7 linked regions of the Homo sapiens genome follow. The protein of the gene in region 1 purifies or fractionates together with the protein of each later gene. This does not show direct contact. Each region holds a gene or a part of one and is shown in the gene's direction. Other genes may lie near its edges. The genes, in order: PLTP, POFUT3, UGT8, NMD3, ITPRIP, GLB1L2 and GALNT7.

Evidence for each region.
Region 2: the proteins of PLTP (region 1) and POFUT3 purify together in Homo sapiens (affinity purification with mass spectrometry; 2 studies listed by BioGRID and IntAct, with this or other methods). This does not show direct contact.
Region 3: the proteins of PLTP (region 1) and UGT8 purify together in Homo sapiens (affinity purification with mass spectrometry; 3 studies listed by BioGRID and IntAct, with this or other methods). This does not show direct contact.
Region 4: the proteins of PLTP (region 1) and NMD3 purify together in Homo sapiens (affinity purification with mass spectrometry; 2 studies listed by BioGRID and IntAct, with this or other methods). This does not show direct contact.
Region 5: the proteins of PLTP (region 1) and ITPRIP purify together in Homo sapiens (affinity purification with mass spectrometry; 2 studies listed by BioGRID and IntAct, with this or other methods). This does not show direct contact.
Region 6: the proteins of PLTP (region 1) and GLB1L2 purify together in Homo sapiens (affinity purification with mass spectrometry; 3 studies listed by BioGRID and IntAct, with this or other methods). This does not show direct contact.
Region 7: the proteins of PLTP (region 1) and GALNT7 purify together in Homo sapiens (affinity purification with mass spectrometry; 2 studies listed by BioGRID and IntAct, with this or other methods). This does not show direct contact.

Annotation. Positions count from the first base shown.
Region 1 is NC_000020.11:45,909,356-45,913,466, reverse strand, and holds the start of PLTP (phospholipid transfer protein isoform a precursor), read left to right. Parts: upstream 1-1,311; 5' UTR 1,312-1,388; intron 1,389-2,003; 5' UTR 2,004-2,014; coding exon 2,015-2,114; intron 2,115-2,215; coding exon 2,216-2,315; intron 2,316-2,472; exon of another isoform or gene 2,473-2,596; intron 2,597-3,396; coding exon 3,397-3,525; intron 3,526-3,795; coding exon 3,796-3,951; intron 3,952-4,111. UniProt on the Homo sapiens protein: Mediates the transfer of phospholipids and free cholesterol from triglyceride-rich lipoproteins (low density lipoproteins or LDL and very low density lipoproteins or VLDL) into high-density lipoproteins (HDL) as well as the exchange of phospholipids between triglyceride-rich lipoproteins themselves.
Region 2 is NC_000008.11:33,372,147-33,375,646, reverse strand, and holds part of POFUT3 (GDP-fucose protein O-fucosyltransferase 3), read left to right. Parts: intron 1-2,842; coding exon 2,843-3,070; 3' UTR 3,071-3,435; coding exon of another isoform or gene 3,436-3,500. UniProt on the Homo sapiens protein: Protein O-fucosyltransferase that specifically catalyzes O-fucosylation of serine or threonine residues in EMI domains of target proteins, such as MMRN1, MMRN2 and EMID1. Attaches fucose through an O-glycosidic linkage.
Region 3 is NC_000004.12:114,626,307-114,629,806, forward strand, and holds part of UGT8 (2-hydroxyacylsphingosine 1-beta-galactosyltransferase precursor), read left to right. Parts: intron 1-3,500. UniProt on the Homo sapiens protein: Catalyzes the transfer of galactose to ceramide, a key enzymatic step in the biosynthesis of galactocerebrosides, which are abundant sphingolipids of the myelin membrane of the central nervous system and peripheral nervous system.
Region 4 is NC_000003.12:161,227,811-161,231,310, forward strand, and holds part of NMD3 (60S ribosomal export protein NMD3), read left to right. Parts: intron 1-3,500. UniProt on the Homo sapiens protein: Acts as an adapter for the XPO1/CRM1-mediated export of the 60S ribosomal subunit.
Region 5 is NC_000010.11:104,335,666-104,339,787, reverse strand, and holds the start of ITPRIP (inositol 1,4,5-trisphosphate receptor-interacting protein precursor), read left to right. Parts: upstream 1-1,322; 5' UTR 1,323-1,542; intron 1,543-4,122. UniProt on the Homo sapiens protein: Enhances Ca(2+)-mediated inhibition of inositol 1,4,5-triphosphate receptor (ITPR) Ca(2+) release.
Region 6 is NC_000011.10:134,362,988-134,366,487, forward strand, and holds part of GLB1L2 (beta-galactosidase-1-like protein 2 isoform b precursor), read left to right. Parts: intron 1-1,340; coding exon 1,341-1,411; intron 1,412-3,500.
Region 7 is NC_000004.12:173,318,811-173,321,638, forward strand, and holds part of GALNT7 (N-acetylgalactosaminyltransferase 7), read left to right. Parts: intron 1-2,769; coding exon 2,770-2,828. UniProt on the Homo sapiens protein: Glycopeptide transferase involved in O-linked oligosaccharide biosynthesis, which catalyzes the transfer of an N-acetyl-D-galactosamine residue to an already glycosylated peptide.

The DNA of each region.
Region 1 (4,111 bases):
GTCTCAAAAAAATTAATTAATTAATTAAATAAAAAAGGAAATGGAACTATTTTTGTGAATCTGTGGATTATATCAGAAAAAAAAGACACAATGGGGAAAGTCCTAGGCAAATCAGGATGAGTTAGTCATCCTTCCTAGATGAGTGTTTGGTGCTAAATACATGCTCAGCAGACATGATTATTGCTTCCCCTTTCTTTCGTCCATTTGGCAACAAAAAGGTGGCAAGCACCCACTCTGTGCCCTGTCCTAGGGTCCGGGAACCCTGTAAGCAGTAGATGGAGGTGGGGGTGGGGGTGGGGGCGGGGATGCTGTTCAGAGCACCTTGCTCCAAGGGTTCATTAAAAAATCCACCAGTGGACCGGGCGCGGTGGCTCATGCCTTTAATCCCAGCACTTTGGGAGGCCGAGGCGGGCGGATCACAAGGTCAGGAGATCGAGACCATCCTGGCTAACACGGTGAAACCCCGTCTCTACTAAAAATACAAAAAAAATTAGCCGGGCGTGGCAGCGTGCGCCTGTAGCCCCAGCTGCTGGGGAGGCTGAGGCAGGAGAATGGCGTGAACCCGGGAGGCGGGGCTTGCAGGGAGCCGAGATCGCGCCACTGCACTCCAGCCTGGGGGACAGAGCGAGACTCCGTCTCAAAAAATAAAAATAAAAAAAATAGAAAAAACAATCCACCAGCCACGATAAATGGCAGACCTCCTTCTGATTTCAGCCGGTGTGGTATGTTCCTGGGCTGACAGCACTTGTCTAGTCTTGCTTTCCCAAGTGGGAAAGGTCTCTGGGACCTTAAGGTCCCCAGGTGGTGACACAGAGACAGGTAGGGGGGCCCATAGCAAAGCCAGGCAAGGAGGTCCCGAGATGATTGTGGGTGGCAGGGAAAGAAAAAATATTCCTTGACTTTGTGCCTGGACCTGGTTGTAATAAAGGCCCAAGAGGTAGTTCCTATCATCGTGCACATTTCGCTGAAGGAAGAAACTGAGGGTCAGTGACCCAAGTGAAGTGACTTGCCCAAGATCATGCAGGAAGACATGGATAATTGTAATTTGAACCAAGGTCCCAGCAAAGTGGGATTGTTGGGGCTGAGTGGGCCGGCTCCTGCATTTCCTTCCCTCTCCCTGGGCTTGGGTCTCCCACTTGTCCAGACAGCGGCCGGGCTTGTCACGGGGCTCTGTGCAGCCTTTTCCACTCTCCCGGCTGCCAGCGTCCCGCCCCGTCCCCTCCCAGCCCCCAAGGGAGGAGGGGAGAGCTGCAGAGAGGAGGAGGGGTCGGGGAGGCCGGCTTTATAAAGGCGGCTGGAACAACCCTGCCCGCCAGACCCCGTCGCCCGGATCCCCTGAGCTGCCCGCCATCCCACGTGACCGCGCCGCCCCCCAGCTCCACCGCTGAGTGAGTTGGGGCGCGTCCCTATCCCGTTCCCAGTCCCTCGCCGAGCCGCGTGGTGCACTGAAGCCGGCGTGGGGAGGAGAGCCGATGAAGGAGAACGCTAACATGGGGGCTCCAGGCAGAATCTCTAATGGGAGAGATTTAGGACCTGAGGGAGCCGGGAGACCCGGGAGCCCACGGTCTGGTCGGCCACCTCCTCTCCTCCCCGGGCGCGAGGCCTAGGAGACCGCAAGCCACCCTCCAAGAATGCGCGTGCAGTCGTTGCCGTGGCAACGTGCAAGCCTGCATGGGCCCACCGCTAAAGGAAAGGGGAGGTTGTTGGGGGTGTGGGGGCTGGTCCCCTGGAGGTCCAAACTCATCACGCGGCGGTAGCACGAGGGAACTGGGAACGTCCCCTCCCCCGTGTCCCAAATCCTCTGGGAGCCAGAACGCAAGTCGCATCGCCTCTCTGAGCCTCAGTTTCCACATCTGCCATATGGAGGCAAGATTATTGGTTCCAAGTTCCCCGAAGAGTTATCTGGAGGGTAACGATCCAGGCTAGTTCCCACTTATGGTTGGACGTCCAAGGAATGGGTTTAAGCGGCTCAGATAACTCCTGCGACCCCACCCCACCCCCAGGCCCGCTCGCCATGGCCCTCTTCGGGGCCCTCTTCCTAGCGCTGCTGGCAGGCGCACATGCAGAGTTCCCAGGCTGCAAGATCCGCGTCACCTCCAAGGCGCTGGAGCTGGGTAAGGCGCAGGGGCAGACAGGGACGGACGGGAGCGGACGGGGTTGGGGTCGCCCCAACAGTGGGCACGGGAGCTAAGTAAGGGTTTCTCTGCTGCTTCAGTGAAGCAGGAGGGGCTGCGCTTTCTGGAGCAAGAGCTGGAGACTATCACCATTCCGGACCTGCGGGGCAAAGAAGGCCACTTCTACTACAACATCTCTGAGTAAGTGGGGGGCGGGGCCTCGCGATCCGGGGCGGGGCCTCGGCGGTGGAGGCGGGGCCCGAGAAATCTCAGGGTCTCGGGAGACTGGAGGCTGAGTGGGATGGGGCGTGGCCAAATCGATGAGGCAAGACTTAAGAAACCGGATGGGGCCGAAAAGATAAAGGCCAAGCCAGTCATCATAGGCGGGACCAGGCAGATGGGCGTGGCCTTGAAAATGTAGAGGGGGCCAAGAAGGAAGCAGGACCAGTGGATGTGAGGCGTGGTCGAAGAACAACAGAAAGGTGGAGTCAAGGAACTTCCCAATAGATGAGAGTGGAGTCTCGGGCACGGGGTGGAGTTAATCGGAGGGGTGGAGAAACTGAAGGCTCTAAGTATGGTTTAGGATGAGGGAGGGGGAATAAGGAATTGAGATGTGAGACGGAGCTTAGGTGATGGAGGCAAAGTGAACGGACTCTATTAAAAGACCGGGTGTAGCAACCCCAGGGTGTGGGAGGGGAGGGGGTGCAAGCAAACAAGACTTTTTTTTTTTTTTTTTCTGAGAGGGAGTCTTGTTCTGTTGCCCAGGCTAGAGTGCAGTGGCGCGATCTTGGCTCACTGCAACCTCCGCATCCCGAGTTCAAGCGATTTTCCTGCCTCAGCCTCCCGAGTAGCTAGGACTACAGGCGCGTGCCACCACGGTCTGCTAAGTTTTGTATTTTTGGTAGAGACGGGTTTCACTATGTTGGCCAGACTGGTCTCGAACTCCTGACCTCAAGTGATCCGCCCTCCTCGGCCTCCTAAAGTGCTGGGATTACAGGCATGAGCCACCACCGCACCTGGCAAACAAACAAACAAGACTTTTAAGCGATGGGGTGAAGCTCATTTTTAACACCTGGATCAGGAAGACCTCCTCTCTCAGCCACCCAAGTTCAACTTTGAGCCACCCAAGTCTAAGTTGGGCACTTGAGGGACAATGGAAGAATTCATTCCACCCACTCCCGCTTCCCCAGGCCTGGACTTGAAAGGGGAGCAGACAAATTTCCTGTCGTTGGGGGAAGTTCCCTCTTCTTGGCCCTGGATCTGACCCTGAGGCCTCCTGTAGGGTGAAGGTCACAGAGCTGCAACTGACATCTTCCGAGCTCGATTTCCAGCCACAGCAGGAGCTGATGCTTCAAATCACCAATGCCTCCTTGGGGCTGCGCTTCCGGAGACAGCTGCTCTACTGGTTCTTGTAAGGACCCAGCACCCTCAGGGGAGTGGAGAGTGGGTCAGGAGGGCTGGAGGTGCTGTGGGGCTGTGGGCAGCCCCCTTAGCCTTCCTGAGTTTCCGTTTCTTCATCTGTGTAACAGAAACAGGCATATGCATTTCATACGAGTTGATAGGAAGGTTTGGTAGGATGTGTGGAAAGAGGTGAAACCTTATTAAGAGGTATGGTGATGCATGGGGGCACTGAAGACTCAATTGAGCTCCTACCTGGAGTGAATATTAACCCCCCTGGCAGCTATGATGGGGGCTACATCAACGCCTCAGCTGAGGGTGTGTCCATCCGCACTGGTCTGGAGCTCTCCCGGGATCCCGCTGGACGGATGAAAGTGTCCAATGTCTCCTGCCAGGCCTCTGTCTCCAGAATGCACGCGGCCTTCGGGGGAACCTTCAAGTAAGCCCCAGCCCCAACCCCAGCTCACCCTTTTCGAGCCCCACAGCTCATCTGCCTAGCGCAATGCAAAGTGCATAGGCCTGGGAATCAGACCAACTGGGTCCAAAGCTCAGCTCTGTCACTTCCTGGCTGTGTGAACGTGGCCAAGTCACTGAAGCTT
Region 2 (3,500 bases), on another chromosome or scaffold:
AATAAACCATGTAGTACACTATCATTTTCCCCCTTACATATACAGTTTTTTGTTTCTTTCCCAGGTAATAATTGCATCTTTATTTGATTATTTTTCCATGTACCTGTCAGTCATTCAGTCTTTGTTGATTGTTTAACTCTCCTCTGAAGATGTTGAGATATGGCAGGCATCCAGCTCTCTTGATCTTATGGAAGGGATCTCTCCCGGAGCCTCTGACCCACTCCTATCTGTGCTCATTGTCCTCTACCTTAGTGTGGAGCAGCAGCCTGAGATGTCACTTCCCCAGCATTTTGGGAATTTTCTTTCTTTTCTTTTTTTCTCTTCTGTTGACATCTGTTTCCTGCATGCTATGTCTCCTGTTTTCTTAGTTTATTCTCTTGTTTTGGTTGATCATACTCTCCAGTCGCTTCCTGAGAAGAGGTACATGCAAGAATGTGTGAAAATGTCTTCATTTCAGCTGAGCACGGTGGCTCGTGCCTGTACTCCCAGCACTTTGGGAGGCTGAGGCAGGTGGATCACCTGAGGTCAGGATTTCAAGACCAACCTGGACAACATGGTGAAACCCCGTCTCTACTAAAAATAAAAAAAAATAAAAAAAATTAGCTGGACATAGTGGCAGGCACCTGTAATCTCAGCTACTTGGGAGGCTGAGGCAGGAGAATCACTGGAACCCAGGAGGTGGAGGTTGCAGGTTGCAGTGAGCTGAGATCATGCCACTGCACTCCAGCCTGGGAGACAAAGCGAGATTCTGTCTCAAAAAAAAAAAAAGAAAAGAAAAGAAAAAAAAGAAAATGTCTTCATTCTACCCTAAATTTAAGCAATAGGTTAGCTGACTGTAAACCACTAAAATGGACATTCATTTTTCTCAGAATTTTGAAGGTATTTTGCCATTGTCTTTTACTAAAAACACTTTTAATTTTTTTTACAGAATATTTTAAAGATAGTTCAGAGTTCTGTATGCCTTTTCCCTGGCTTCCCCTCATGCTATCATTTTATGTAACTGTGGTACATTTGTCACCAATAAGAAATTCATATTGGCACATTACTGCTTGCTAAACTGCAGAGTCTAGTCATATTTCTCTTTAGTCATATTTGGCCATATTTCTGTAACATCCTCTGTCTGCGCTAGGATCAAATTCGGGATACCAGGCTGTAATTAAACCATCACGTTTCATTAGTCTCCTCCAGTCTGGACAGTTGCTCAAGCTTTTTCTTATTTTTAATAACTTTTGAAGAGTACTGGTCAGTATTTTGTAGAATGTCCCTTCATACGGTTTGTCTAATGTCTTCTCATGTTAACACTTGGGTTATGGATTATGGGGAATAATACCACAGAGGTAAACGTGTTCTCATTGCATCCTATTAGGGCAGCTGTTCCTAACCTTTTTGGCACCAGAGACCTATTTTGTGGGAGACAATTTTTCCACAGACCGGTAGGTGGGTGGGGGATTAGATGTTTATAAGGAGTGAGCAAGCTGGATTCCTCACATGTGCAGTTCACAATAAGGTTCACCCTCTTAGGAGAATCTAATGTTGCTGATGATCTGACAGGAGGCAGAGCTCAGACGGCAATGCTCACATGCATGCTGCTCACCTCCTGCTCTGCAGCCCGGTTCCTAACAGGCCAGGGAACAGTACTGGTTCATGACCCGGGAGTTGAGGACCCCTGTATCAGGGGATGCATTATACCAACATAACGTATAACTGGTAATGTTAACTTTGATTGCTTGGTTCAGGTGGTATGTGCTAGGTTTTCCCACTGTGAAGTTGCTAATTTTCCTATTCTTCTATGTTTTGTTACTCTTCTGCCCTCTTCCATTCTCCCAATTCTTACAGGTTAATGCCTTTCAAGAACAGTCCTTTTACTCTCATTTTAATGGTGTTTCTGGAGGAAATGAAATTGGATATGTGTGTTCACTCTGTTATCCTGGAGTTTTTCTGTCTCTCCTCTTTCTCTTTTACTTTTCTTTTTCTTTTCTCCCTTTCTCCCTTCTAAATTATTGGAAGGTCAAATCCTGAACATGTAGGCCATTTTAAGGACTTGGACTTGAACTTGGAATGAGAAGGGCTGCCGAGTGTAGCCTGCAGAGGATCAGAAGTGGAATCAAGGGGTTAGTTAGGAGACCATGGAAATAAGCCAAGACTGAGCGTGGACCAAGCTCATTGCAGCATTTTGAAGCTGGGAGGTATTATGCCAATGTCAGGTACCATTATTGTTGGGTGGAAACATCTTAGTACTGGGGACAGTTGAGTGCAGTGGAAATATATTAAAAACAGGGATTAGTTGTAATATGTGACAACATAGATAGATGTAAAAACAGTGCTTGGTGAAAAGTAGCAAACAAATGAGACATACAATAACATATAAGTATATTAAAAATAAATGCCCAGAGATTGAGAACACATTTTGCAATGAGTATTCGAATACGCTTACATGCAAATACAAAGAACTGTGTTAAACATCTTAAAATATTTGCCTATGGGGAGGAGGATAGGGGTGGGATAATAGGGGGAAAAGGAATAAACAAATCAACAGATAAATAACCAGAGGGAGGGGAAGGCTTTAGAATCTAAAGAGAACTATATTCGATCTTAAGTATATACTGTTTGGGGCAATTTATGTAACTTTTTTGTGGTTTAGTTTCCACTCCTGTAAAATGGGGTAGTAGCACCTATTCAATATGCTTACCATAAGAATTAAGTGAGGCAATATGTGAGATGCTTTCTTTCCCCTTTAGCTCCATGGAGTAAAGCTGTTGTTTTAAGGAAAGTCTGTTGCTTTAAGGGAATTGTGCTTCATTATCATATGTTTTTAATTCATTTCTCTTTTCTCTTCCTGCAGGGCTTACCACCCAAAAGATGGGAGGCAGAAGATACCCACCTGAGTTGCCCAGAGCCCACAGTGTTTGCTTTCTCACCACTCCGGACTCCACCTTTGAGCTCTTTGCGAGAGATGTGGATTTCCAGCTTTGAACAATCCAAGAAAGAAGCCCAGGCACTAAGGTGGCTGGTTGATAGGAATCAAAACTTTTCATCTCAAGAGTTTTGGGGCCTAGTATTCAAGGACTGATTTCAAAAATGATCAGAATGAAACAGACTAGAGCCTTCTTGAGGTTTATTTTCTAGGTTGCCTTAATATTTGAACATAATAGCTATTCTGTTGACTATCCATCAGGATAATAATTAGTTGCTGCAGTACTCATAATGAGCCCTTTCAAGGAATAGATGTAAATTACCCTTAGGGGTAGCCACTATATTTTTTATACTAAAAAAGGAAATATTTCTTATGGACACTGGTTATCTTCCATGTCCGTGTCTGTGGACCCACATACTTACTGCCTTTTGTGGAAATTCACCTAGAGTGAGTACTTTCCTTGTGCAATGGAGGGAGACGATCTAGCTATAGATTCTTGATACTCACCTCACTCTCAACAGCTTATTGGTATTTGGCAAACCTGGTATCCTGCAGCCGAGCATGAACATGAAATACATTAGAACTT
Region 3 (3,500 bases), on another chromosome or scaffold:
TGTTGTGACAGTAACACAGGAAGGCCCAGAAAGTAGCTGCGTAGAACACATGATTCACATATAGCAGCTTAATTGTTAATTGCCCTGGTATCTTACACTGGGCATAGATTAGGTTTTCCAGATGTCTGTAAATGATTTTACAGTGGGACTGAATTTCACAACCTGGGATGAAAGGGCAGAGAAAATTTATAAAGGACATTTTAAATAAGCTTTCACAATGTTTGATCCTAAAGAAATCCTGTAGAGAGCATATAGTTCGGCTCCATTCCTTTTATTTATTCTTTCCTTTAAAGTAGGTAGAATAGAGATAGGGAATAGTCCATCCATTTCTCACATAGTAGATACAAAGACTTCATCAAAAGCCACACAGATAGTCTGTGGCAAAGTCAGGTGTAATGTGGATTGTTTTGCTATTTATTAGGTGTTTTTTCAAGGTGATTGCATCTCTTGTCACTAATTTTAGTCATTTACTTACTTACAATTGTGTATAAAACCATGCAGAGACAGCAGTTTTTTGAATCTTATTTATTTTATGTCTCTCAAAGATTGTCAGGGCTTAATACTCAAGTCAAATGAAACCATATGGACTCTTATTTATGCTTTAGAGATTTGATAAACTAAATCAGCCTAAGTTCAAATGCTTTTGATTACAAAATGTTGTGTCAGTGTAGAGTGAAGAAATTGTGTGCCTTGATAGTAGAAATCATTTTAAAATCCATGTTAGAAATGTGCCTGGAAAGACAACTTATCATCTACTACCTGGCTGCCTCTAATAGGAGTCTTTAAACAATGTGGACTAAGGGGAAGAATTCTGAGTTGGATCACATTCATATAGTGGTTTACCTACTCTATCATTGCAGGCCAGTAGAGAACATGGATAAAGATTAAAAAATAAAAATGCTTTGATCAAGAAGGAGGTCTGTAGACAGGTCCCTATTTGAATAGATTCTTTTTTTTTTTTTTTTTTTGAGATGGAATCTCTTGCTCTGTCACCCAGGCTGGAGTGCAGTGGCATGATCTCAGCTCACTACAACCTCTGCCTCCCAGGTTCAAGTGATTCTCCTGCCTCAGCCTCCCAGGTAGCTGGGACTACAGACTAGTGCTACCATACCCAGCTAATTTTTCGTATTTTTAGTAGAGATGGAGTTTCACCGTGTTAGCCAGGATGGTCTCGATCTCCTGACCTTGTGATCTGCCCGTCTCGGCCTCCCAAAGTGCTGGGATTACAGGTGTGAGCCACCGCGCCTGGCCAAATAGATCCTTTAAATATTAAATGTGAATGAAATAATGACATCTAATTGGAAAGTGATTTTAATTTTTATTAATTTTATTAGCAGATAATCCACCAAAGAATAGTACATGTTTACTTAGGGAATCTAATAGTTATTAAAAATAAATGTTTCAAGTGATACTTTTTAGATGATTTCCCATTGGCTGAAATGGCCTACGCTGCCAGGCAGTTGCTCTCTGCCACTTTTCAACTTCTACAGCCTTGAACTCTTATAGCACCTAATAGCACTTTAACTACTGTTTGCTGTTGTTGTACTGTTTTTGTTGTTGTTTGTTTGTTTTACATGGCTCTCTTAACTAGAATGTGAGTACCTCAAAAGGTTGATACTCTATAACCTGAGTGCCTGAAAAATGGTTGGTACTCAATAAAACTTTAATATTTAATGAACTGTATCAAATAGAAATAGTTGCCAAAAATAGGTGATTCAGTTAGTGCAACAATGTTAATATTATAACTATCATCTGTTTGTTCTAAATTTGTGTCTGTATACTGTCCTAGCCATTAAGCAACCCAAAAATCCATGCTAAGTTGTTGAGTTTTTTTTTTAATTTTTATTTTTTGAGATGGAGTCTCACTCTGTCACCCAGGCTGAAGTGCAGTGGCATGATCTTGGCTCACTGTAGCCTCTGCCTCTTGGGTTCAAGCAATTCTCCTGCCTCACCCTCCCAAGTAGCTGGGATTAGAGGTGTATGTCACCACGCCTAGTTAATTTTTATATTTTCAGTAGAGACAGGGTTTCGATATGTTGGCCAGGATGGTCTCAAACTCCTGACCTCAAGTGATTCAGCCACCTTGGCTTCTCAAAGTGCTGGGATTACAGGCATGAGCCACTGCCCCAGCTGGTACTAAGTTATTTTAATGAATTAGAATAACTATTCTAATGTTACTGATAGTGAGGAAAGAAGATAACCATACCATTACCCAATTGTGAACTAAAATAGTCTTTTCTCTCTTCCAAATATGCATATAAACAGGGGCAGTGCTGAAAGTCAGGCCAGCTATTGCTGTCTTGAAAGATGATTTGAGGCAGCATGGCACTCATTTGGTGCTCTTCAGAGATACTATATTTCCACATTAGGAGTATTTATGGCATCTTAAGTTCACCAGTTGTGGAGACATTTTTATTTAAGGAAGCATAGTCTTGGGGAGAGATAAGAGATAAACAGAGATAAGAAAGCACATGGGACCAGGGACTAGACCAGGAGATATTCACTGTTTGTCATTTTGTTATTTGCTGGAACTCCCTCAGAGAATGATCTTGGGGACAATGAGAGATTGAGCAACAGAGTTATTAGATTAGCCACTTGTGAGCAGGTAAGTTTATGAGAAGAAAAATGAAATGAAGAAACAAAATAGTGACTTTCCATACTTGGTATTCCTGATTAACATAGAAGCCATTACTTCCTATTACATATGGTGATTGAAAGCTGGTTTCACCATTAATGAATGAAGTCTCTAGGCTTGGATATGAGACCAGGGTCCTTGGGGGTAAAAGACTTGATCCAGGGTTGCAGCAGATGTGGAAAATTAAGGCCATTTTTATTAATAATTACATATGCAATTTGTTATCTTATGAAATTTAAAGCTGGAGATGTAAAGCTTCATCTATATAGTAGTACTATGCTATGTTGTTAGCTATGTGGGGGTCAGAAAATTGAGGATGACAATGTTTAGAAGAGACTAATAATTTCATTCCAGTTACTAATTCTGAGTTCAGAAATGTTAGTACTTTAACTACTGTTTGTTTGTTTGTTGGATGGCTCTCTTAACTAGAATGTGAGTACCTCAAAAGGTTGGTACTCTATACCCTGAATGCCTGAAAAGTGGTTGGCACTCAATAAAAGTTTAATATTTAATGAACTGTTAAATGATAGTTTGGCAGAAAAAATAAATTCTCTAAGGGAACTCATTAATGTAAAATGTTTTTGCAGATGCTTTATAGGTTAATCATGTATTTTCTTATTATTTTGTAGTAAGAAACCAAATTTATAGTAAGTAACCAAATTTCTTGTTAAAGAAATCTATCCAGGAAGTAAGTAAATCAAGCACTGTTGAAACTATCAATGACTTAACTGTTCAGTTCACTGATACAAAAATTTTCTAAGCAACATTGTAGTTTTTAATAGCTTGTCATCTGCTTCTGTAAGCATTATGGGCTTACAAGGATTTCCTGATATGATAGGAGATCCAATATATGAACGGAATCAAA
Region 4 (3,500 bases), on another chromosome or scaffold:
TTATATATATTCTTTTTATGAAAAGTAAAAATATCTTTTTGCTTTAAAAAGACAGAATTTAATTTTTTTCCTTTGTTATTTATCGAGAATCTCATGTATAATTTTTTAACGGAAATTTTTATGTAAAACCATCACTAAACATAATTGGGATTATAATATTAGGGCTATGTTATTTGGTTTCTTTTTATTGTCATTATTGATCTGGAAATAAAATATTTGTGCCTGTCACTGAAAGTCAGTGCATAAATGTATTAAAAAAAATAGTTTGTTTAAAGTACAGTTTATTTCCTGATATAAAATTGAAAGTGATTGACACTATGAGTTTTCTTTATTTTAAGCTTTATGACTCACTTCTACCATGTTTTTAATTGAAATTGACTCTTTCAGATTGAAGACTTTTCTGATTCTCCTTTAAGCTCTAATAAAATTTCATGTAATAGTTCTTTGAAATTTCTGCCTTTATTTTCCTACTAGGTCCCAGCCAACCCCACAAATTTCTGATGGTCACTTTTTGGCGCTTCTGGCATAAAACTTTGTCTTTTTCCCTTCATATTTTAAAAAACCTTTTTGGTTTTTTTCGCTCCCCTCTGTTCTTGGTGATTTTTACTTTATCTTCTAATCTTTCTAATGAATTGTTTTTTTCCAGTAGTAATGTTTTTAAGTTCCAGAGTCTTTCATGTTCTTGATGCATTTTTTTTAAGTTTTTCTGAAGATTTTGATAATAGGACTTTTTTTGTTTCTTTCTGTTCCCTCATTTGTCTCTGTTTTTTTATGAAGTCAGTTTTTTGTGTGTCTTGGTTTTTTGCTTTTATACTTGGGGTTTTTGTCAAATGTCTAGTGAGTCTTAACAGTTCATTAATTAATTCATCAGATGTTTATTAAGTACCAACTCTGTGCCAAACTGCTTTTGGTGTTGGGGATATGGCAGTGAATAAGGCAATCCCTGTCTTAGAAAGCGTGTATTCTAATTGCACACTAACATGCCAGTGTGGAGCAGCATGTTAGTATGCAGCGATCAAAATAGGTGGATATATTACATGGTATATTAAAAGGTATATTCTGTGGAGAAAGGAGCTAGGAAGAGGATAAGAACTGTGCATGGAAGAGTTGAAATTTAAAGTAAGGGTGTTTAGGGGAGGGCTCACTGATAGGGTGACATTTGAGTAAACACTAAAGATTACAGTAAGGGAGGAAGCTGTGCAGAAATGTGGAGGAAGAGCATTAGGGGTAAAGAAAACAAATGTAGAGACCAAAAGCAAGAGCATACTTGTGTGAATAGAACGGAGTGGTGAGGGGAAAAGTAGTTGGGGATAGAGTCCAGAAAAGTCATGGAAGGCCACAGTGTGTCTGGCCTTGTAGGCCCTTATAGGGGCTGTTTCTTACTCTGAGTGTAAGGAGTATAGAGGGTGAAGGGCAGAGTAGTGAGATGACATGACTTATTAGTATTCCTCTGGCTGCTGTTTTTAGAATGGTTGTAAGGGAGGTAAAGGTGTTTAAGTTTTTGTAATAATCATGAGAAATGGTTTTGGATCAGCAATGGAGGTGGTAAGAAGTGGACAGATTTTGGATCTATTTTTAAGGTAGTAACATTTACTGATGTAGCTGGATGTGTTTTTGTAAGAGACAGAAGAGTTAAGGATGCCTTCCACTGTTCGTGACCTGAGCAGCCAAGTCACTGGGTAGGGGGCATGAGAGTTCATCTGTAACTGGTATTTAGATGTCTACTAGACACTTAAGTAGAAATACTGAGTAGGCAGGTTGATAAATAAGCCAATGAGTGGTCCAGTCTAGAGATAATGAATTTAGGATATAGATAGTATTTAAGGTCATGAATTGGATTAGATTATTTCAGGAGTTTACATAGAGAAGGAAAGAAACTGGAGGACTGAATCCTGGAATCATTCCTTTAATGGGTAATGATGAAGAAATAATTGGGTAATGAGGAGGAATCAGCAAAGGAGACTGAAAGGAGCTGCTAGGAGGTAGGAGGAAAACAGGGTGAGTGTGATGTCCTGGGAGGAAAGGGAAGTGTTTTAAGAAGAAAGGAGTGAGTAGCTATGTGATTTGCAGCTGATGAGTCAAGTAATGAGTTCTGTAGATTTAGTAATGTGGACGACCTTAATAACATGGGCAATTTCTGTTTAGTGGTGGTGGTAAAGATGTCATTTAAATAGAAATTAAAATGGGAGAAGGAAGATAGACAGTTCTTTTGAGATTTGCTGTAAACGAAAACAAAGAAATGGGGCAGTGGTTGAAGGGGAAGTTGGGGAAGGGACACTTGTCTTTTTATGTTATTTTATTTTTTGGAGATAAGGTCTTGCTTTATTGCTCAGGCTAGAGTGCAGTGGCGCTGTCATGTCTCACTGCAGCCTCAAACTCCTGGGCTCAGGTGATCCTTCTGCCTCAGCCTCCTAAGTAGTTGGTACTACAAACATGCACCACCACACCTGGCTGATTTTTATTTTTACTAGAGGTGAGATCTCTCTCTTTCTCTCTCTTTTTGGCCCTGTAGAGCAGAGATCTCACAATATACCCAGACTGGTGTTGAACTCCTGAGCTCAAGCGATCCTCCTGCCTCAGCTTCCCAAAGTGTTGGGATTACAAGCATGAGCCACTGTGCTTGGCCAGGATACATTTCTTAAGATGGTATATATAACTGTATTTGTAAGCTCTCTGGGAGTGTTAGAGTACGGAGGGAAATTTTTGTGAAATTGCAGGGAGAAGAATAATTGGCTGGGGGGTGGCCTCAATAAGTGGAAAAGAGATATAGTACATAGTGAAAGAATACATTTATTTGTTAATTCACTCCTTCATTCAACAAGTATTCAGCACTTACTCTTCACCAAGCACCATTTTGGGAGGCTGTAATATTTCATGGAACAAAGTAAAGATCTCTGCTCTCTAGAGGGGCATTCTGGAGGTTGATCTTGATGGGAGTATGGATAATTCATCTGTGGTAACAGCAGGGAAGGTGTTGAGTGGGAGCTTCTGGGAATTCTCCTCTGGTTCCTTCTTTTGTACTGGAGAAAACAGAAGCGTGGGCAGTAGCTATGTGGGAAGAGCTGTTAGATAGATGTTTGAGGAGAGAGCGGAAGATATGAAATAGTCCTCTAGAACTAGAGGAAATGCACCAGGACAGTGTTGGATGGGTGCTGGGCAGTGCTGAGGGTTACTGTTACAAGTTTAGACTAGTCACTGTGGTGTGCATCTATTTCTGTAGTTCTGTCAGCCACATAGTCAAGGCATAGAGCAGGCAGAGCACTGGATTTAACCAAATTTATAATTTAGCCTAGTGGCTAAGGTGAAATAAGAGAGGGAACAAGGAAATTGAGTGTGTACATGAGAATAATTTTGATTATTGATTTTGAAGCTAGTGAGGAGGAATGAGGAATAAAGTTGGTAGGATGAATGGATTGTCCATTATATTAGCTTGAAAGATATTTGGTGCCCAGGAACTAGAGGAAATAAGCTGGAAAGATGGGAGGTGGTAGTCAGGGAGT
Region 5 (4,122 bases), on another chromosome or scaffold:
ACTGGCCCCCAAAATTCTGCCATAACCTCTTACGTAAGGAAAGAATTTGAGCAGCAGTAGAAACTTGAAAACAAAAGTACCCTGGGCCAAGGGCCAGGGAGTCTATTTTTAGAACATTTTCTCATTGCCTGTTTATCTTTCAGACTCAGCCAAAAAGTCTTCCAGGCGAGTGTTAAAGGAAAAGACGAAAAAAAGGTGATCTAAGACCAAATAGCAGTAGCAATGGTGATCATTTTGGACACTGTGTTCCAATTTCCCCAATGTGCCTTCACTGGCATTTGGTGCCCCCAAAGCCGCTTAATGGAGAATTCATTCAAACCCTGCTCTGCCTTTTGTACTGATGGTAGGATTTGGGCAGGTCAAAGGGAAGACAATAGAAGTTATGGATTTCATAAACTATTAAGCTCGACCAGAACGCTGCTGCTGCTCCTCCAGGCCTCAGTTCTCTCGTTTCTAACATAGGGGTAGTAACACTTGATCTACCGTCACAACAGTAACCAGAAACTACCGCGCCTGTCCCGTACAGTATCCGGTCACTGTTCTCCTTTGTGCCCGGTTAATCCCGGAGAAAAGCAACCATGCATTTGATTATCATAAAAGTCGGGCGCGGTGGCTCACGCCTGTAATCCCAGGCGCTTCGGAAGGCCGAGAAGGGAGTTCGAGACCAGCCTGACCAACATGGAGAAACACCTTCTCTACTAAAAATACAAAATTAGCCGGGCGTGGTGGCACATGCCTGTAATCCCAGCTACTCGGGAGGCTGAGGCAGGAGAATCGCTCGAACCCGGGAGGCGGAGGTTGCGGTGAGCCGAGATAGCGCCACCATTGCACTCCAGCCTGGGCAACAAGAGCGAAACTCCTTCTCAAAAAAAAAAAAAAACGGTAGTAAGCTATTTTAATCCTTTCAAGCTGCAAAAGAGAAAAAGGCTGGCGTTTTGTCTAGAGTTATATTTTCCTCCAAGAGACTAAATAGGTGGCCCCAGGAATTCCGCCACTTGTAAAACGCGCCGCAGAAAACTCTCCCCGACTGGTAAGGACTTAACCCCTTCCGCTCCGCGGCTTAGGACGACTTTTAAGGGCGTCCTCCCCGCGCCCCTGTCCACTCGCTCCAGTTTACTCCACTGGCCTGATTCCGTCTCTCCCAGTCACTCTCCAGTTCTGCCGTGCCGGGGAAGTTTCTGGGGGCTCACTGGGAAGGTCTTCCCGGCGGATCCTGGGCCCAACCACCGAAACCCACACGGTCCTCCTTAAGGAGCTTCCGGGGCCGCGGGTAGAGGCGGGTGTTTTGTTCTTATAAGGAGGAAAAAGTTTTTGTGACATCCAGGAAATGAGTAACTCTGAAGTTCAGTAGAGCCGGCCGCTGCAGGCCAGAAGGTGGGAGCCAGCGGGGGCATCGCCGCCCGCGCCCCTCTAAGTGCCGGGCCGCAAGCTCCACCGCAGCCGCCTGCAAGCAGCGGCGCCTCGGCCCTCGACCTGCGCGCAAAGCCTGTGCTGGAGCCGTCCTCCCGCGGCGGGGACCGGGACCGGGGACCCAAGCCAATCGTAAGTCCCAGGGCAGCCTAGTGTGCTGAAGGAAGAAGGGCGCGATGGAGAGCGCGAGCTCGGAGGAGCTGTGTCGGAGATGGCTGCCGACAGAGGGGGCGCAGGAGGGTGTGGGGAGCGCGGGCGCCTGCTCCTCCCGGGTGGGGGCTGACTTTGGAGACCCCCTTCCCTTAAAGCGCGCGTGCCCAGGCGGGCGTATTGTCTCCTCGCGGTCCCGCATCCTGTTCCCGCCGCGTCGGGGGATGCGTCCCGGGCGCTCGCTCCAGCCAGGGCTGCGGGCAGCTCCTCCTCGAGGCGCGCGCAGCCTCGGAGCCCAGAGCGGGACCACATTTTTGTTCCTAGTGGCCAGGTGACCCGTTACTTCTCACATCTGAGCAGAGCGCTACCGAAGAAAGAAAAGCCGGTTCGCCCTGCTCATTTGCTGCCCCCTTTTCCCCTTCCCCTTCCCTCCCTTCCTGTAAGGGAGGAATAGGCGTGAAGTTTTTTTTTCTCGGTTCATGGTAGTGAAGTTATGGGGCTGCTTCAGGCCGGATAAAATCCCCGCCGCTTCCTCTTTCGGGACTATTAGTGGGCCAGACCTCACGCTGTGCAGACTTGCTCTTGGGCTGCAAATAACTCTCTGCCCCTTCACCCCTAACCCCACCCTCAACCCCATCCCTGTGACTTTGCCATTCTGGCCGCCTGGTGAAGACTCCCGGGGCGGGACTCCCCATCCAAAACGCTTTCTCTTAAAAAAAGAAAAAGAAAAAGAAAAAAAAAGCCACCGACCAGGAAGGTAAAATATTTTACGGAACCAGGCAGGGGCCTCATTTTGCCTTTTGCCCCTCTGCTGGTATGAGAAAAGCACCCTTTCACAACTAGTAGAGTACCAGATACTGGTCTCATTTCACAAACAGTAGAGTACCAGATATTGGTCGCAATCTGGACTCTGGTCTTTTGGATCTAAATCGGGGTCGCGGTCTATTTTCTTGTTCTTTTTTTGGATATGACCCAGTGCTCTTGCCTTTTACAAACCGAGTCTATCTGACTGCCAGCTAAAGTTCATCTGTGGTTGGTGCAGTTTTAGGCCCAGGTGAGCCCTGAAAATAGAGTATCAGAAAAGTGGATTACTGTCTTTCCTCCTTACGAAAACAGAATAGGCTGTGTTTTTGAGTCCTCCCTCCAGCCCTCGTGCCTAAGTGGCTTTCATTGTTTGCTAATTCCCTGTATGTTGCGGCTGCTCTGGGCCATTCTGCCTTCGGATTTTCTCCACTTGTGGGTAACCATGAAGTAGTTATACTGACTCTCTGCTCTCCCTGGGTGCATTCTTCTCATGCTCAGTAAATCTACATTTTACGTAAGATAAAGTAAGCATGTGAAATTATAGCTATCTGTTTGGCAACAAAAGGAATGCAGTTTTGTTTTCGGTTTTGTTTTTTGCATGACTGAGTTCCCAAGCTTAACTTTTCCCTTTGGCATCCTGAGCTTGGGGTCCTAAGGTTGTATTTTCCTTTCACAGCTATCAGCAGAGACAGGTAGCCATCAACAGTTAGGAAAGAGTCTGGGCTGGGTGGCTGCCTGTCTTCCCAGAGCTTTGGGAGGCTGAGGTGGGAGGATTGCTTGAACCCAGGAGTTCCAGGCTTAGAGCTGGGATCACTTGGTTGGGATCACTTGGTTGGAGCTAGGATCGTGCCACTGCACTCCATCCGGGTGACAGAGTTCAGACCCTGTCTTTAACCTACCCCCCAATGCCCCGCTGCCCCCCCCCCCCCAAAAAAAAATAACTGGGCAGGAGAAGGTGCTTTCAGAGTCCAAGACTCAGGTTCCATGTTTCGAGTTGAGAGTCTGCCCCAGTAGGGTTGAGGTGGCACGGCAGCCTGTGGGGCTTTAATGGAGAATCTGCTTGGAAGGGGTGGGTGCTCCAAGTGTTCTGGGAGCTGAGAAGCAGGACTTTATTATGGATGACACCAGGCCATCCTGGACCCTTCTCTCATCCAGTCTTGCTGGGGAGGGGTACAGAGCCAGGAGGATGCTGAGAACTGTTCATGATAACCTCCAGGGCTGCTGCTAGCCTATTCAGTCCTTCGCATGAATTAGAATAAGGTGCTCTGTCTTGGCAAGAGGATGGGGCTTGATGCCTCTTAGAAATACTGGCCTTACTTGAGTGGACATAGCCAAGCCATATAGCTGGATAAGTGGCATGTGAGCTGGATTTATCCTCACCCCTCAGCCAGGTGCCTTAAGCAGTACACTGCCTGGTCCACCATTCACACAGCAGCCCTGATAAACAACCACTATTGAGGGCTTAACATTCGCCAGGCTTTTTTTTTTTTTCCCCAAAAGTACTTAGCCTGTATTAACTCATTTAATCCTCACAGTAGCCGTATGAGTTAGGTATTGTTAACTCCATTTTACAGATGAGGAAACTGAGGCACAGGGATGTTAAGTGTTCCAGAGCCTGGAAGGTGAGTCTTAATCACTGGGCATTCATAGACCAAGAAGCAACTTAAGCTTAAAAAGCTAGTTTAATTGGGAACCCTCGTGGGAAAGGGGGAAGAACAGTTGCCTTTTTCTTTCTCTGTCAAAGGAGGAAATACCCAT
Region 6 (3,500 bases), on another chromosome or scaffold:
TACCTGTCCACTCTCCGCTTGTATTTGTGAGACGTATCAGGAAGGACAGGACAGAGATGCTTGTGTTCACTTAGCCCTGTGCATCCTGCGGACTTTGAGTTCAGCCTGCTCAGTTTCAGACTGGCCTCCTGTCTTCAAAGGGCTTCTGGCTTGAGGGGAGGGGTCTGGGTGGAGGGTCCCACCCAGTGGGCTGCTGGAGGGCAGGGACAGGGCAGAGCTATGGTATGGTGTCAGGGAGACCCAGGTGTGCAGTCCCGCTCTGCCGCTACCTGAGGCCAATTATTGTGACCTAGAGGCAAGTTATTTCACTTCCCCGGAGCCCCAGCTGTCGCTTGCGTTCCTTCACTGGCAATCAGAGGCTTTCGTCCTGCAGCAGAGCATCAGGGTGGCCTGGCTTGCCAGGCTGGCTCAGCCTCTCTGGTGTGTGCCTAGGCTGTGCCTGTGAACTGACTGTTAGGCAGATAGCAGGCAGGTGAGGGGCCCCAGGATAAGGCTGTGCCACTGGGGTGGGCGTGGGCATGCCCGGGTGTCAGCCAAACAGAGCGCACCTTTCTTGAGCATATGTTTCACTGATAGAAAGCCACTGAAAATAGCATTTTAAATTTTAAACGGAACATGTTATGGGGTAGAATACAGAATTAGCCCTTATCAAGAAATCAGAGAGGAATCTTTGTTTACATCATTACCTTGGACCGGATGCTTGGGGTGCCAAGGAAGGATCAGGCTCTGGTTCGTACAAAAGAACAAGGAACAGAGTGCATGCTCGGCTTGTAGAAGTCACAGTTGATTGAGATCAGGTGCACAGCGAGTGACTGCCTCTCAGCTCTGTGCTGCTGTGGCGGAGTCTCCAAGACAACAAGATAAGTCTCCTGGCGTCCTGGCTGACTTATTTATTTATTTATTTTTGTGAGACACAGTCTCACTCTGTCACCCAGGCTAGGGTGCAATGGCACAATCTCAGTTCACTGCAACTTCTGCCTCTTGGGTTCAAGTGATCCTCCCACCTCAGCCTCCCAAGTAGTTGGGATTACAGGCATGCACCACCAACCCTGGCTAATTTTTTTGTGTATTTTAGTAGAGAGGGGGTTTCACCATGCTGGCCAGGCTGGTCTCGAACTCCTGGCCTCAAGTGATCCACCTGCCTTAGCCTCCCAAAGTGTTGGGGTTACAGGTGTGAGCCACCGCGCCTGACTGTGGCTGACTTCTAACTGGAGGTGGGAAACGGTGTCAGGGCCGCTTACTTTATTGTGCTGGTGGATTGAGAAGGGTCTGGGGTCACCTAGAAGGTCCCTGGCTTTGAGACAGTGCTTTGTCTCTCTCTCTCCTCTTCCCTTTAACAGTCTTGGCCACCATCAACTTGCAGTCAACACACGAGCTGCAGCTACTGACCACCTTTCTCTTCAACGTCCAGGTAAGTCCAGCCCCAGGGAAGCTGCGGCCCGCCCTGCTCAGCGGCCTATGGGAATTCTGAATGCCTGTCAGCGTGCTCAGCTTCCCCAGCGCAGGGAGCTGGACTCAGGGCTGATGGCCTCTGGCCCCCCGCCCATGCCACTGTGTGCCTGCAAGGCCCGCTGCCCAGAAACACCTCTGAGGGCTGCTGTGTAGGCTGATGCAGTGTGGACATCACCCACTGCCCTGAGAGAGGGGCCCTTTTGGTGCACTCCTAGAGGACTCGACTTTTGTGGCCTCAACTAGCTCCAGACTTGCTCCCAGGGATTGAGGGGGGAAGGAAAAACTTCCCTGTCCTATACTACACAGGCATCCGACCTTAACCTGTGAGGCCCCTGCAATCCTAGAAAGATTATTGTCATCAGCAAGGCAGAAAGCCTGGTCCACTCCAGGTGCGGAGAGAGGGAGGAGTTTCCAGATGTCCCTCAATATCTGTCAGACTGATGGGCATTTATGCCACCCTGTAGTTCTGACTGGCCTCTTTCTCGAGCTCGCGTGCCCCTCCGAAGCAGGTGGATGGACAGGGCCATGCTGCAGCCCTCTGCAGACCTGAGAGGCCCCAGCTGTCCCCTGGCTCACTGAGGGGCGTGGATGCTCCAGACTGCCCCCACGCTGCATCGTCACACTGGTCCTGGGCCTGGAGTGGAGTTGTGCTTGGATGGACAGGCATGGATGGCTGTGGAGACGCTGGGCTGCTTTCCATTCCGGCTGATGGCCTTTCAGAGCAGGGGCTGTGTCCTCAGGCACATCTGCGTGGAGCCACCACAGCCGTGTGGGGCCGTGTGTGTGTTTGATGTGGCTTCTCCTGGAGTTCAGCTGCCAGAGTAGGCGAGGAGGCTCCCAGGAGGAGGTGGGAGGGCTGGCCCCGCTCCCAGGCAGGCTCCTGTGACGCAGATCAGGCGCGATCCAGCTGGGTCTCTGCCTTCCTTTCTTGGCATTTCCTGAGTGCCTGCCCATGTGTGCAGTGGAGTGGGGGGTGCCTCTCATACTTGTGACTGAGATGACAGGGTCTCCTGCCCTGTGCTGTGTGACCTTGGGCAAGTTACTTAACCTCTCTGTGCGTCTCTCTTCTTCTAAGTGGGGATGATGAGAGTACATTTCCTTATGGTGTCAACTCACAGGGTTGTTTGAAGATTAAATGAGGTAATATTTGGAAAGTGCCTAGCACAGCAGCTGATACAGCAGAATGCCTTATGTTTAGCCTTCAAGGTCATCCTTAGAGGGGTAGCCACGCGCGAGCCTTCCCAGGCCAGCTGTCCTGCTAACAGAATGGCCCTGCTGAAGGGCTTTATGTGCGCAGTCCAGAGATGTCTGTTTTCCTGAAGGAAGGGGACTTGGACACCTCCCTGTTTAAATCAAGGGCTCTCTGAATGCACAGCACAGGCCTCCAGGTGTGCTCCATGTGGCGATGTCCGATAGCACCTCACTCGTCCTCTGTGTCCATGACCCGTGATGGACAGAACTATGCAAGTGTTTCTTGAGCACCTCCTACCTGCCAGGAACAGTGTGCTAAGGGTGTTATGTGCACTCTCCCGTTTAATTCTCCCAATAGTCATATGAGCCAGTGAAGGAGACAGCTATAGAGTGTATAAGACACCCTGTAAGTAGTGGCTTGGGGACTGCAGAACAGTCTCACTACAGAGCTCCAGCTCTTAGCCAGTTGTGCAGTGCAGTGGCCTGGCCCATGGGTGGACACCCACCTCCGCAGCTCTGGTACCCTCAAGCCAACAACCTTGCTTCTGGCATGGGAGATTTCTGACTTGTGGGACTTTGAATCTGCTTCTCCCTTTTTAGTGATTTAAACGTGGTATGGTATGTCTCCTTCTTGGAAGGTAGGTGGCTTGTAAAGAAAACCAAGCCGCCAGTCTTGCTAGAAGAATTCTTGTAACTACTTTGGCTTTAACCCGGGTATGGCTGGTACCTTCTACTCAATGGACCGTGAGTTTGTCCCATCCCCCTGGATCAGATTTTGTTGCTGTGTATGCGGTATCCCTCTAAACATAAGGCTATCACTGACCTAGAGATACTTGACAAGCTGTCACTGAATAAGT
Region 7 (2,828 bases), on another chromosome or scaffold:
AATTTTAGTAATACAAGAAAGTCAGTGTTCTGTGAGGCAGTCATCACCATTGCTCTCATCAAAATCTGATTTTTGAAATGTAAATGAATCATTCATTAAAGTAAAATATATTTAAATATATTTATACTATTAAAAATTTGGTTAATATTTGATATTGTCCAGCAGGTGGAGATAGAGACAAACAAATAAAACTTGAAATCTAGGCTTTCATAACGTCTTTATCATTGTTGTGTGCTAAATACAGTGGGATAAATGTAGCTAGTTGCTTACTTTAATGGTCAAATTTAGTTATTCACGTGACACTGCTGGGGTAGCTTTGTGTTTCAGCTGTGAGTATTTAAAGCTCTGTGGCAAGTTGAGGATTACAACATATTAATAGATTTATGTATAGTTTTCAAATTCTAGATTTGGCTAACATAAATCAATTTATTATTAAACAAAAAGTGGGGAAAGCTGCCTCACACTAAAAAAATCTGTCAACCCTCCATTTTATTTACTCACCCAGTATTTGTTATCATATCCCATCTGTCATGCAAGCAAGGACTTGTTTGCTATGTAATAATGATATGACCTAGCTTAACATTCCCTGTTACTGTCATTTACAGATAATTTCCAGGAAGTGATAAGCACGTATCAATTGATGATTTTGTTTCTTATAACAAGTTAGGAAGGAGAAGAATAGCATAAACCTTAAAGAGTGGAGCATTTATTTTCACAAAAAAAAAGGATATATAATAGCAATAAATAGTAGGGGTCAGTGAGAACAATATTAGCAAAATAGTAAAAGAGGGCTAACACACCAGAAACTACATCAAGAAGTAATTGAACAAAAAATGACACATAACATGTTTTAGGTATTTTAAAGACGCAGCACTGAATATACATTTGTGTGTTAGATATTACTGAACATTCACTTGGGGACCAATAATATGTTAGACTGTAGGGGAGTTCAAAAATATAGCTAAAGCACGCTATTATATAATGGCAGAGAAGAAAGAAATGCAAAAATAGAGATAAGCAAAATGCCATAGGACAGAAAAGAGTGATTCATGGGAGGAATTACTGCTGAGGAGTTTCATAGAGGAAGTGTCATTGCACAAGTCCTGAAGTGTAAAAAGGCTTTCCATGGAAAGTAAATAAGAAAGCCTGGATGAGCAAAGATGTGGCATGAAAACATGTAGAAAATTCAAAGAATTGTATTTCATTTGGTATCCCTCAATTGTGCTTTGGAGGAAAGAGCACCGAACTTCATTTTTTAAGTTTTGGAGAGGGATAGACCTTATTTGAGGAAGGTAGTGATGGAAAACAATGGCTACTTTTAGGAAAATAATTCTGGAAACGTGAGGTATGGACTGATGAAGCAACGAGATCAGCTTGAGCAGCAGTTCTCAAACTTTCTGTCCTCTGGATTCCCTTTACACTCTTAAAAATTTTTGAGCTCCCCCACCCCCAAATTGCTTTTGTTTATATAGGTTATCACTAGCAATATTTCCAGAACTGGAAAGTGTCTGAGAAATTTGTAAAGTTTTTATATATTAATTCATCTAAAAGTAATAATAATATACTTATTAAACATTAATGTAAATGACATTTTTAATGAAAAATAACTATGTTTACCCACAAAAAATAGTGAGAAGAATGGAATTCTGTATTTTTGCAAATCTCTTTAATGTCTGGTTTAATAGAAGAAGACAGCTGGATTCTCATACTCCTGCTTCATTTGGTCTGATCTGAAATGTTGTTTTCGTTCAAGTATATGAGGGAAACCCAGCCCCACACAAGCATACAGTTTGTAAAGGGAGCGAGTACTTTAATAGCCGTTCATATAATTGTGGCTGTTTTTTTATTGTACACCACAACTTAATAATTAAGTGGTAGTTTCTTAAAAGTTATTTCCAGTGTAGACTGATATCCTTGAGCATTGTACCTCATTATATGGAAGTACTTGATACGTACTTCCCACTTCATCTCATAGAATTTTTTTTAAGTATACTGAGGGGTCAAGACTGAATAAAACGAATGTTTTGCTCCTTCATCAGTGACATCCTTAAGTGAAACCGGCATTTACTTTTCAACTGTGTGTGGCCATGAGCAATACAACTATAGGTACTAGCATAGTTTGATTCATGCTAAGGCACCATCAGTTTTACTCACCATTGCTTTTGCACTATCGGTATAAATGTTGCTAAAGTGAAAAGGCAATGGTGTCTTCGTATTATGATGAAAATAGTTTCGGCCTTACAGACCCAATCCTGGATAGTCTGAGGACCAGACTTTGAGAAGCTCTGAGCTATATTGAAGAAACCTACAGCATATGGTGAGGGCCAAACCAGGGCATCTGCAGTGGCGATGGGAAGGAATATAAACCAGAGACATTGCACATATCCATCCTTAGTGACTGGTATGTGAGTGAATGAGGAAAAGTGCAGTATTTCCTAAGGACTAGAGAGCTGGGAATGTCATTAGCCAGGATAGGAACAAGAGACATAGATTTGGAGGGGCAGATAATGAATTTAGGTTTGTATACATTGAGTGTGAGATACCAGCAGTATATTGTGACTTAACAATGAAAGATCTTAGGACTTAGAAAACTGACAATCAAGAGAAATCCAGAAAACTGACAATCAAGAGAAATCCAAAGTCTGAGGTGTGGTTGAGAAGCTTTTCCATTTCCTTAAACTGTCTCCTCATGAAAGTCAAGTGATGATTTCTGATGTCAGTGATATCAAGGGTCCAAATTTGAAACTTTTTTCTTACTGTGTTTTCCAGAACCTGCACAGATTTACTCATATTCCTTCAGGAAAGTGTTTAGATCGCTCAGAGGTCCT